3 linked regions of the Homo sapiens genome follow. The protein of the gene in region 3 purifies or fractionates together with the protein of the main gene of each other region. This does not show direct contact. Each region holds a gene or a part of one and is shown on either strand. Other genes may lie near its edges. The genes, in order: CNTNAP3, NPTX1 and SIAE.

What was found.
Region 1: the proteins of SIAE (region 3) and CNTNAP3 purify together in Homo sapiens (affinity purification with mass spectrometry; 2 studies listed by BioGRID and IntAct, with this or other methods). This does not show direct contact.
Region 2: the proteins of SIAE (region 3) and NPTX1 purify together in Homo sapiens (affinity purification with mass spectrometry; 3 studies listed by BioGRID and IntAct, with this or other methods). This does not show direct contact.

What each region holds. Positions count from the first base shown.
Region 1 is NC_000009.12:39,281,422-39,285,170, forward strand, and holds part of CNTNAP3 (contactin-associated protein-like 3 isoform 1 precursor), read right to left. Parts: intron 1-3,749.
Region 2 is NC_000017.11:80,475,062-80,478,810, reverse strand, and holds the start of NPTX1 (neuronal pentraxin-1 precursor), read left to right. Parts: upstream 1-2,203; 5' UTR 2,204-2,364; coding exon 2,365-2,808; intron 2,809-3,092; coding exon 3,093-3,300; intron 3,301-3,749. UniProt on the Homo sapiens protein: May be involved in mediating uptake of synaptic material during synapse remodeling or in mediating the synaptic clustering of AMPA glutamate receptors at a subset of excitatory synapses.
Region 3 is NC_000011.10:124,639,032-124,642,780, forward strand, and holds part of SIAE (sialate O-acetylesterase isoform 1 precursor), read right to left. Parts: intron 837-3,749; coding exon 679-836; intron 1-678. UniProt on the Homo sapiens protein: Catalyzes the removal of O-acetyl ester groups from position 9 of the free diacetylated sialate N-acetyl-9-O-acetylneuraminate (Neu5,9Ac2) in the cytosol and of the diacetylated sialate residues of sialylglycoconjugates in the lysosomes.

The sequences.
Region 1 (3,749 bases), on a different chromosome or scaffold from region 3:
GCTTATAAGAGCTTTCTTAACACAGCTGTGGACTTTTCTCCTGGTGTTGTACAGCAGTTCAAATTAGCTCAAGAATCATAAACCCTATATTTGAACAGCTATATAATATTATATATTTATTTTCCCATTTGATGTTGCATTACTTTTTCTACCAATCTTCTTACAATAAATTCATAAATATCTTAATTATAGCAAATGTGAAGTTCTTAAAGATGAGAATCATCAAACATATTTCTATTACAGAGATATATTCTTCAAAAAGTCATCTAAAATAGAAACCCAACTGGGAGACACCTTAAAAGGTTATCTGCCACAACAGAAGCTTTGCTTAAAATACTGTTCTCTTTGTATTTGTGTTAATAATTGATTTGTCTTTGAAATTAAATTAGGAATCTACTATATCTAGTGGTCTTGAAATCAAAGCCCCCTCCCCATTCCTTATCTTCACTGCTGTGTTCAAAAAGACTAGACTCCAGGGACGTGTCCAAAGCTGGGTTAAATATAGGATGCCTGAGAGACACCCTTCTTTCATAGTTCGAGGGTAAGCATGTAGCTGTATGTGTGTGGAGGGGCGGGTGGAGGAGGTTAGCTGTATCAGGGTAGGCATAATACTATATTTTAAATCCCTCCTTCTGTTATAAATGTAAGCTGAAAATAGTCTCTGCTCCCAGCGGCAGCAATCGTAAACTCGCTTAGTTCTGCCTGTAATTTAATTTAATTTAACATGTGACATTGAGACAATGTTTCTTTTAATTCACATATAACTTCTTCCTCACCCACATTCCAGCCAAATAAACACATACTTATAGAAAAATGTGACTGTTTTCCTGGGCATCCCAACAATTCAACTGTCCCTAAAACACCAGGTTCAATTTAAACTCTATTAGCTTGTCTGAGGGCTAAGATATCTAAAAATCCAAGACAAATTATCATTTGCGTATATGGAGGCAGCTCTGATTGAACAGATATCTAAAACGGTTAGGTAATATTTTAGATCAAATCACTCCATCAAGTCAAAGACTAATTCAACTGTTTGTTCAGTTTCCAAAGGAATCCTTCCATTTTGGTCTAGTGTTCCATAAACATTGACTTTACATGAAAAGGACAGTGAAGAGATCTCTTGAACCGGCCAGAAAGTTGAAGCTCAAGGTTGTAGAAGATTTGAGCTACCAAGTCCAAGCCTTCTAAAAGATTCCCAATATGTATATATATCATTTTCCTAACTCTACATTTGCCTGAGAAACAATGACATTCAATAAACTTTTTTCCATGGGATTTAGTTACAAAATAAGTCAAGGAACTACAAGTTATATATTTCCTGGAAAAATATACTATTATATATATATATTATATATTCAAAACTCCGTAAAGCATATAAAGTATAAGCATATACTGAGTTATAAGGCATAACTCAACATGTTATTTTAACCTAAAATTTTCTTAGGGCCTCAATTGCAAATGCTTTAATTGCCAATGGTTCATAAACACATCTGTGAATTAGAAGCAAGTAATATCCTCTGTTTTTATACTCTCAAAAAATGTGATTATACTTAATCAAAAGTAATTCAAACCACAGCCCAGGCAATACATACTAGACCATGTCTTCTTGGTAATTTAATTCTTAGCAATAATTTTAATTGCTGCCTTATTAAGTAGGTATGCTACTTAAATTACAATCCTGTAGTTATAAGGTTAAAACTATTTTAAAATCTCAAATGTTTTTAGATTTCAATCACTCTTCGTATTATTACAACAAAAATGTTCATTAACTGGAACACATGCAGTATCATTTTTTAGCCCCCACTTTATGATATTTTTTAATTTTTATTACCAGAGTAGTCATTTCATTATAAAATTTTAACCAAGCTAAGCATATACTCCATTTTTTAGAAAACTAGATTTACTGTAGTCCTGTTAAGGCTATCATAGTAAGCAATGAATTTCACACTTGTCTTTTATACAGTACAACACATCAAGCAGATATATGAAATCCTTGACAAAAGACATTTAAAACAAACAATTCCATGCTTTATATGTCAAGTGAAAAGGAATATTTTTTCTACAGTGACAGAGCAGACTTGACATGTGCACAATCATGTACAACCAAGCGTTTGCAAATGCTCTTACAACGTGGAGCAACCGGGCCTAGGGACAAGCAACCTTTCAGCTAAGAGTCTCGTCAAAGGTGCGGAAGCCCATTACAGAAGACCAGATAACAGTCAGTCTGACGGGTTCATTCAGATATTCAAGCTTTAAAAAGTACTTTGAAGACTGATACAGATGTCCTAGGCAATAAACTTCCCGAAAAGAATGGGGAACAATCCCAGTGCCAATCACATCTTTGTCATTCAGAAATCCAGGCTAATTTGATTTAGAGACATACATAAATGAACTGTTATTTCTCATAACTGTTTTTTTTTCAGCCTCTTTATTTTTAATCTACATCTCTTAGGTAAAATGCATCAATTTAACTACATTTACTTATTCTGAGTTTTTCTATTGGTCCATGTTTCCTTTAAACACAATTTTGAATGGTTTTTTAAAGTAACCATTTGATTTTGAAACCAATTTACAGAAAACATGGAAGAACTACGCTAATATGCTGTATCACCCCTGAATACTTCAATGTACATTTCCTACAACAAAGATGTTCTCCTATATAACCATAATATGATCATCCCAGTCATCATGGATAAAGTTCCAATATTTAATCCCCAATCTTGTTCAAGTTGCACCAATTCCCAATCATGTCCTTTATAACATAAGCATTTAATGCAGAGTAGTATTTAGTTGCCTTGTTTTCTTAGCCTCCGTCAATCTGGAATGCCTCCTTCCTCACTCCACTCAACCTCTGACAACTTGCTATAGGTCACCACCAGTGCTGTCTCCTGTCTCTCCAGGTCCCCACCCTTGCTACACTGTGGATGCTTTCCTTACCCTGCTGGTTTCTGAATGCTCTGCCACGGTCCTGGGCCTCCCCACTACCCAGCATGGATGCCTAAGCTGAACTGAATGACCTTGGACTGAATTGTTCAAAAAGAGAAGGGGAGAGGAAGAGGAAGAAGAACGCCAAGTAATTTGATTTTTCTTTTTTCATGATCAAACCAATGTCTTGGAATTGATTATCACTTCCATGGGCTACTTATGCTCCGTACTGTTTGTATAGAGTTTGGTGAAAATGAATAAAGGCAACTGAACTACATTTTTTGGTTTTTTTTTTGAGACAGAGTCTCACTCTGTCACCCAGGCTGGAGTGCAGTGGCACGATCTCAGCTCACTGCCTCCTCACAGGCACCTGCCACCATGCCCTGAAATTTTTTCATATTTTTAGTAGAGACGGGGTTTCACCGTGTTGTCCAGCCTGGTTTCGAACTCCCGACCTCAACTGATCCACCCACCTCAGCCTCCCAAAGTGCTGGGATTACAGGTGTGAGCCACCGCGCCTGGCCTGAACTCCATTTTTTATAGAGTACCATTTGACACTAAAATTAAGAGTCTGTTACTCATCTGCAGAATCTCTCTTTAAATGGTATTACTAAAAGGTCCAAAATGAAACATCTGTAAAAATAATTATTCCTACACTCTGTGAGATCTCTTTCCTGACACATTTCACATCTAAGTGAGTTTCCTAACTAACCCACACACACTCTATAGTAGGCTTACCCTTCTTTCCCCAGGCTGGCTGGCGAACTTGCAAAACATAACCATTTAGGGGAAAAAATTGAGGCAATTAAAATTAAAAGTGTTTT
Region 2 (3,749 bases), on a different chromosome or scaffold from region 3:
GTCCACTCCCTTCCTCTGCGGAAGGGGGACACGCTCCTCTGTGCCGAGGTGCCAGGCCGCTGAGATCTGCTGCCCTGGAGGAAAAGCCAGGCAGGGTCCCTGGCCTTGGGCGGCTAGGAAGGCTCCACGGCTGCTGGGGATAGAGACGCGGGGCCAGGCTAAGGGTTCCCGCCCCGTCTAAACAGCCTGCCCTGGGCAGGGCAGGGCTCCTCTCCCGCGCCCGCGCGCTCTCGGCTGGGCACGGTCCGGCTCCAGGCCTGACGGGCGCGGCCTCCCCACTGGACGCGTGCGGGAGGGCGGCGAGGCCAAAGCGCTGGGGCCAGGAGGGCACCCGCCTAGCGGCTCCCTACGGGAGTTGGGGCAGAAGACGCCGCGACCCCGCGCGGGTAATTTCTCCCGAGGCGCGTTCCAGCCCGTGGCGCTGCCGGCGCAGACCCCGCGTGGGGACCGGCGAGGCTAACCCCTCCTGCGGCCCGGGGTCGGCAGAGCACGCAAGGGGCCGCGGGCCGCGTGGGTTTGGGCGCGCCGTGGTGGGCAAGCGGGGCCAGCGGAGCGGGAACCCGCACACCCTCCGAGCGGAGCCGAGGACAGGCCCGTGCGGGCCGCGGGGTCCCTCTGGCGCCAGGAAGCGGCGGCCGAAGGAGACAACGAGAACGCAGCCCCGGCTCAGGGAGGCTTAAAAGCTGAGATGCTGAACGCAGACGGCGGGCGCTCGGGGGCTGGGGGGCGGGTAGAGGCCGCCATTTCTCAAAAAGGTCTCCATCGAGCCGGCCTCTGCTCCCGCCCGAGGGGCGGACGCCCGATCCCGGCACCCGGGACTGCCCGTGGGTCCCTGCTGGCTGGGGACCCCCAGCCCCCGGCTGCGCGCAGGGAAAGGCTGCAGAACGCAGAGACCAGAGAAGCCGGGGGCGGCGGGGAGGGGTCGGGGGGCCACGGCTGTAGCCCGGCCCCGCAGTCTCGGAGCCTCAGTTTCCTTCTCTGTACCACGGGAGCGTGGACGGAGGGATTTCCGAGGCTTTGACCGCTCTGATAGCCCCGGGGCGGGGCGGGGCGGGGCGGCTGCGCCAGCCCTGGTCCTGAGCCCCCAGCCCGGCGCCGGAACCCGGACCGCGATCTCGGGAGCCGAGCCCCGCGGTCCAGATGAAGGCGCGAGTGCGCGGGTGCCGGGTGGGGTGTCTGAGCGAGAGCGGAGCTTCTCAGGTGGACGCCCCCAGCCACCTCCGGGACCCTTCCTGCTGGCCTTTGGGCCTGAGAAGTGGGCGCGGCTGGACAGACGGGAAACAGCCCCCCACGCACAGGTGGACACCCGGGGATACCGGGCGCGCGCGGCGCCTGGCAAGGGGAAGCTGCTGGAGACGCGGGCGGCTGCTCCCGCGGGGCCCCCTTCCGAAGCGCCGCTGCGAACGTCCAGCCCCGGCGACGCCGCCTGCCCGCGATCGGGCCGGCGCCGCGGACAGGAAAGGCTCGATCAGCTAGGTCTGCCTCCGAGAAGTCCCCAGCGCCCCGCCCGCACGGGGTGGGGACTGACAGTCCCCCGGGGACGGGGCCGGGTCCACAGAGCCCGGGAGCTGGGGGAGGGGAGGCGCCGGGGGCCCCGACCCGTGGGAAGTCCCTGTACCCAGGCTGCCCGGCGGCTTCTCAATAGCACACGGACATCTAAGAAACGCGGGGCGGCCCGGTGACCCCCGCTCTGGACTTAGTGGCGCCGCGAGGCCCCACTCCGAGCCGTTGACCACCGGGCACTCGGGTGTTGACGACCTGGGTCCTTGGGCACCCAGCCCGGCTCCAAACGACCCCGGCCCAAGGGTGTTCAGTGCAGCCAGGAGGGCCGAACCGAATTCTATCTCCCGGACGCGGTGGTTTCCCGCCCGCCTGGAGCCCCGTCGGAGGTTCGGGGACACCACGCAGGTGGTCCATCCTCGAGTCCGGGGCCGGAGCCCGACTTCCTTCCCCCTGAGCTCTCGGAGCCTTCGGGGCAGCAGCGCCGGCCCAGGCGGGGGCGGGGGAGGAGGGGGCCGCGGCAGCTCCCAGAAGGGCGGGGGGGACGCGAGCGGAGGCAGCCCCGGTGGCGCGCTCGTGAGACCCCCGCCGCGCCGCGGGCCCGGGCCGCGGACAATTAAAGCGGGATTCCTCCCCCGCTGACGTCGGCGGCTCGAGGCCCCTCCCGCGGCGGCATAAAAGGCGCGGGCTCCGCAGCGCAGGCGGCAGTGGGGGCCTGATAGCGCGGCGGTGTGGACCGCGCGGCCGAAGAGCGCGGCGCCCAGAGCGCGGGCCGCTCGCGGAGCCACAGCCCGAGCCGGGTCCCAGCCGGAGCCGAGCCCCAGCCGAGCCGAGCCGGGCCCGGAGCGCCCGGTGCCCGCAGCCATGCCGGCCGGCCGCGCCGCGCGCACCTGTGCGCTGCTCGCCCTCTGCCTCCTGGGCGCCGGGGCCCAGGATTTCGGGCCGACGCGCTTCATCTGCACCTCGGTGCCCGTGGACGCCGACATGTGCGCCGCGTCCGTGGCCGCCGGCGGCGCCGAGGAGCTCCGGAGCAGCGTGCTGCAGCTCCGCGAGACGGTGCTGCAGCAGAAGGAGACCATCCTGAGCCAGAAGGAGACCATCCGCGAGCTGACCGCCAAGCTGGGCCGCTGCGAGAGCCAGAGCACGCTGGACCCCGGAGCCGGCGAGGCCCGGGCGGGCGGCGGCCGCAAGCAGCCCGGCTCGGGCAAGAACACCATGGGCGACCTGTCCCGGACACCGGCCGCCGAGACGCTCAGCCAACTCGGGCAAACTTTGCAATCGCTCAAAACCCGCCTGGAGAACCTCGAGGTCCGCGCGCGCCCTCGGCTCCGGTTCCCCCTCCGGCTCGCTCGCCCCTCTGCCCTCCCCCACCCCGTTCCCTACCCGGCCAGGCATCCCCCGCCCTCGCCTCAGCCGCGCGGGTGCCCGGCCGGTGCCTCCCCGCGCCTGCGAGGCCCCGCGGCGGCCACTCGCCCCAGCTCCCTGCCAGGCCGCCCCCGCAGTCGCCCAGAGGGGACCGCGCCGCGGGCCTTCCAGCACGGTCCCCGCGCCTCGCCTAACGGTGTGGTTTCCCCCGCCCTTGCACCCCGCAGCAGTACAGCCGCCTCAATTCCTCCAGCCAGACCAACAGCCTCAAGGATCTGCTGCAGAGCAAGATCGATGAGCTGGAGAGGCAGGTGCTGTCCCGGGTGAACACCCTGGAGGAGGGCAAGGGGGGCCCCAGGAACGACACCGAGGAGAGGGTCAAGATCGAGACCGCCCTGACCTCCCTGCACCAGCGGATCAGCGAGCTCGAGAAAGGTACTGGGGCCAGGGGGAGCCGTGCTGCCTGCCTGCACCTGCTTGCCCGACCCTGCCTCGGTCCCGATCCCTAACAGCCCAGCTCTGCACTGTGCAAGCCTCAAGCCGCTCCGCTACCCCCAACCCCTGCACCGCTTTCTCATTCCCCGCACCCCTTCCCAGGTTCTGGGCTTCTAGTCGGTGTTTCTATCAGGGCTGGGTGCCTTGGGCTGGGGCTGTCTCTGGGAAAGGGGATTGCATAGTGCCCCCTCCCCCATCCAGACACACTCACACACTCGCTGGATTTTTCAAGTCTGATTTGTTTAATCCTCAGTAACTTTGCACAGTGGCTGTCGCTGGCTCAAACCCTCCCTGCTTAAGAAAGCCTGTCTCTCCCTGGTCCCCAGCCTCAGCGTACAGCTGGGTGCAGGCTGGGGCTGGGCGCTCTCGTTCCCCGGGCCGCTGAGGCT
Region 3 (3,749 bases):
CTAAGAGAGCTAACTCATAAGATTGTTCCTAACCACTAAAAGTCAGGTTTCTTTGGAATCAGCTGATTCATTATTTGGTCCCCTAGAGCTTTTATTCATTTATTCAATAAATCAATCAAGTTCCTCCTATAATCCAGACACTGTGTGTTGGACTCTGTTTCCTATGTGGAATCCCCTCACATCCTACAGTTAGTGTGTGGTGTTCCCTGGGGCTGATCACAGGTATCTCAGTATTCCTCCTGTGAGGCCAGAGGAATGCTGGAATTCCATTTCCTGCTGCCACTGAAGTTAACCGTAGCCTTATGACTTGGTTTGGCCAGTGCAATGTGAGCAGAAATGACTTGTGTGGAAGCACTGAATTGCCAGTGTGACACTTTAAGATGACTATGGAAGCATAGGTCAACTTGGAGCCTCTATTGCTCTGGGTCTATGAATGATTACAGTGAGCAAAGTCTCTGTTGACCTTCTTTTAACAGAGAGAGTGACCAAGAAATAAATTGTTGGTGCATCAGAGAACTGAGATGTTGAGGGTGTTTGCTGTTGTTACTGCAGCACACCCCAGCATACGTGACTCTTAAGTGCCAATCCTCAGTCTAATTGCCCCTCACCGGTGAACATCAGAGTGAAAGACTACAAAGAACATACACTGTTCATGCAAAGCCCAAGAAGCAATCATACCTGCCAAAAGGCGAGTCTCTATCACAGAGATCCATAGCTACAGCCATGAAAGTATTGGGCATCTTTGGGTTGGGGACATAGCCGAAGTCTGCTGTTTGATGCCAACGGATCTGGGGAAATCCATCGTCTGAGCTCTTCTTAGACAAATCTGAAGATAACTAGAAAGCAGAGACATTGCTAATTTTATTGTATCAGAATCCCACACTGGAGTCTTTTTCACTGGCAGACTCTGCTTCTGCTTCTCTCATTGCATTTAAATGCTCATTCAACACGTATTTACTGAGCTTCTTACTGTTGTGGCAGTGTCTCTCCAAAGACAGCTGCAACAGTCCCTCTCATCCCATGTGCCCTCTTGCAGTGCAACTTTGCCACACCTCTCATCAAGCAGCGGGGTCTGTTTCTCTTCCCTTTGAATCTAGGATTTGCTTTGACCCATAGAATGCAGGAGAATTGATGTTGTACAGCTCCTGAGTCTTGGCCTTATGAGGCCTTGCCTTCTGAATTCATTCTCTTGAAACCCTGAGCTGGTCATGTAAACACCATCCAGTTACCCTGCTGGAGAGATTATGGAGTGAGAGGGGCCTTGGAAATTGAAAGATCATAGAAAGAGAGGCTCTAGTGTTCCAGCAATCACAGATAAGGGCCAGTCATATGGATTTCTAGATCCTCCAGTTAAAATTGCAGCCACATAAGCAAGCCTAGCTGGTATCATGTAGGGCAGAAATGAGCCATCCCAGGTGAGCCCTACCTGGCCAACCCAATGAATCATGAGCAAAAAATATGGCTGATGGTTTAAGCCCCTAAGTTTTGGGGTAGCTTGTTACAAAGCAATAGATAACTGATACATCTGTATACAACACAGGGCTAGGCACTGTAGGCAAGCAGAGAAGAATCTGCCCTTGAGCATGTGCTAAATTGCATCAGTGACCCCAATTCTTCACTCCCTCCTATATCCACACCCTCTTGCCATGTGGATTTGCAGTTCCTCCCGTTAACAGGACAAGTATGTTTCCCAAACCCTTGATTCTAAGCTCAGCCATGTGGTTTGCTTTGACCAATCAACAGAAGCAGAAAGTATGGTGTGTCACTTCCTAGCCTAAGTGACTCTGCATGGCTCCACTTGCTCATTTGCACTGCTGCTATCGCCATAAGAAGGACGTGCCTGGGCTAGCCTGCTGCTCCCTGGAGAAGGACAAGAGCGCCCCTGCTGACCCACAGAGGTCTGAAAGAGCCCAAAGATCTGCAGCTTAGCCAAATCACCCAAACCCCAGCTCCCCAGACAAGAGCTACCTATATAAGAAAGGCTATTTTAGGCCGGGGGTTTTGAGGTAGTTTGTTACACAGCAGTAGCTAACTGGTACAAGTACTTTACAGCTTTGTTGAGGAGGACAGACCTACACATAAGAAATAAACATAAGGATTGAATGGGTTTATGTTTCATAAACATATAAAATAGTATGGATTAAATGTTAAATGAGTGCCACAGACAGCAAGTACTAAACATTTAGAACAGGCAAAGATTATTATTATAGGAAAACGTGGTCTCAGAATTCATTAAAACAAATGGGCATCAAAAATATGAGAAGTCACTACAGGCAGTACTGCTCACACTTCACATGTTAGAAGCATGTAAGATGCAAAGGTGGGGAGGAGAATGGTCGTTCTGAGAGAGGGGCAATCCAGGTGGACTGGAGGATTTGTGAAGGAAAGGCAAAGTTGGAAAGATAGCAAGGCAAGTGTTTGTATAGTTGATTCTTTTGTATTAAACAATAAAGAACCTCTGTAGAGGTGATAGCTGCACGACATCGTGAATGTGCTAACGTGCTACTGAACTCAATTGCATGTTATATGACTTTCACCTCAATTAAGAAATTACAGAGCCACTGAAATTACTGACATGATCAAAGGACCATTTCAAAAGATTGTTCTAGTGATCATACAAATGGCTCTGGCAAAAAACAAAATAAGGCCGGGCATGGTGGCTCACGCTTATAATCCCAGCATTTTGGGAGGCCGAGGTGGGTGGATCACCTGAGGTCAGGAGTTCAAGACCAGCCTGGCCAAAATGATGAAACCCCTTCTCTACTAACAATACAAAAAATTAGCCGGGAGTGGTTGCAGATGCCTGTAATCCCAGCTACTCGGGAGGCTGAGGCAGGAGAATCACTTGAACCCAGGAGGCGGAGGTTGCAGTGAGCCAAGATTGTGCCACTGCACTCCAGCCTGGGCAACCGGGCAAGACTCCATCTCAAAAAAAAAAAAAAAAAAAAAAGAAACCAAAATAAAGGACTTAACGCAGAGAGACAGATTAGTTAAGCAGCTATTATAATATTCTAGACACAAAAACAAAGATCTAATCTACAGAGATAGTAGTAGAACGGGATGATGAGAAATAATAAAAACTGACAAAACCAGGCAACCAACTGGATATGGAGAACAAGAGGAAGGGTAAAATCCATCATTCGGAAGCCACGGCATCTGAATTAACTGTGTGGCATCTCAGGCATCCAAGTAGCACCAGAATATTTGGGGAATAATATTGTTCCAGAAAGAGCCTGTGAAGGATCCACAGCTCATGTATTATCAGTCAGCTCATGTATTTATTCATGCTTTTAACAAATATTTACTGAGCACCTACTCTGTGTCATGCACTAATACTGGCCTAGGAGATAGAGCAGTGAACAAAACACAAGAATCCCTTCCCATTCTTATACCCTAGTGGAAAGAGAGAATGAATAACAAGATAGATCTGTAAACTACATATCCTATGAGAAAGTGACAAGTGCACTGGAGAAAAATATAATAGGGAAGGAGGAGAGAGTGTCAGAGTTGAATGAAGACTAGAAGGAGATGCGCAAAGAAGCTATGAGGATATCTGGGTATGTTAGGCGGATGACCCACAGGGAGCCGCATCCTTATACAATACTCTCCTCTTTGTGGTAGGGGGAACTCGTAATTTGATTCTAACCAATAGGCTATGGCAAAGGTAATGGGATATCACTCCTGTGATTATGTTGTATATGGCAAAAGTGAAGGGATTTTGCAGATGTTACAAGTAACGTCCCCAGTCA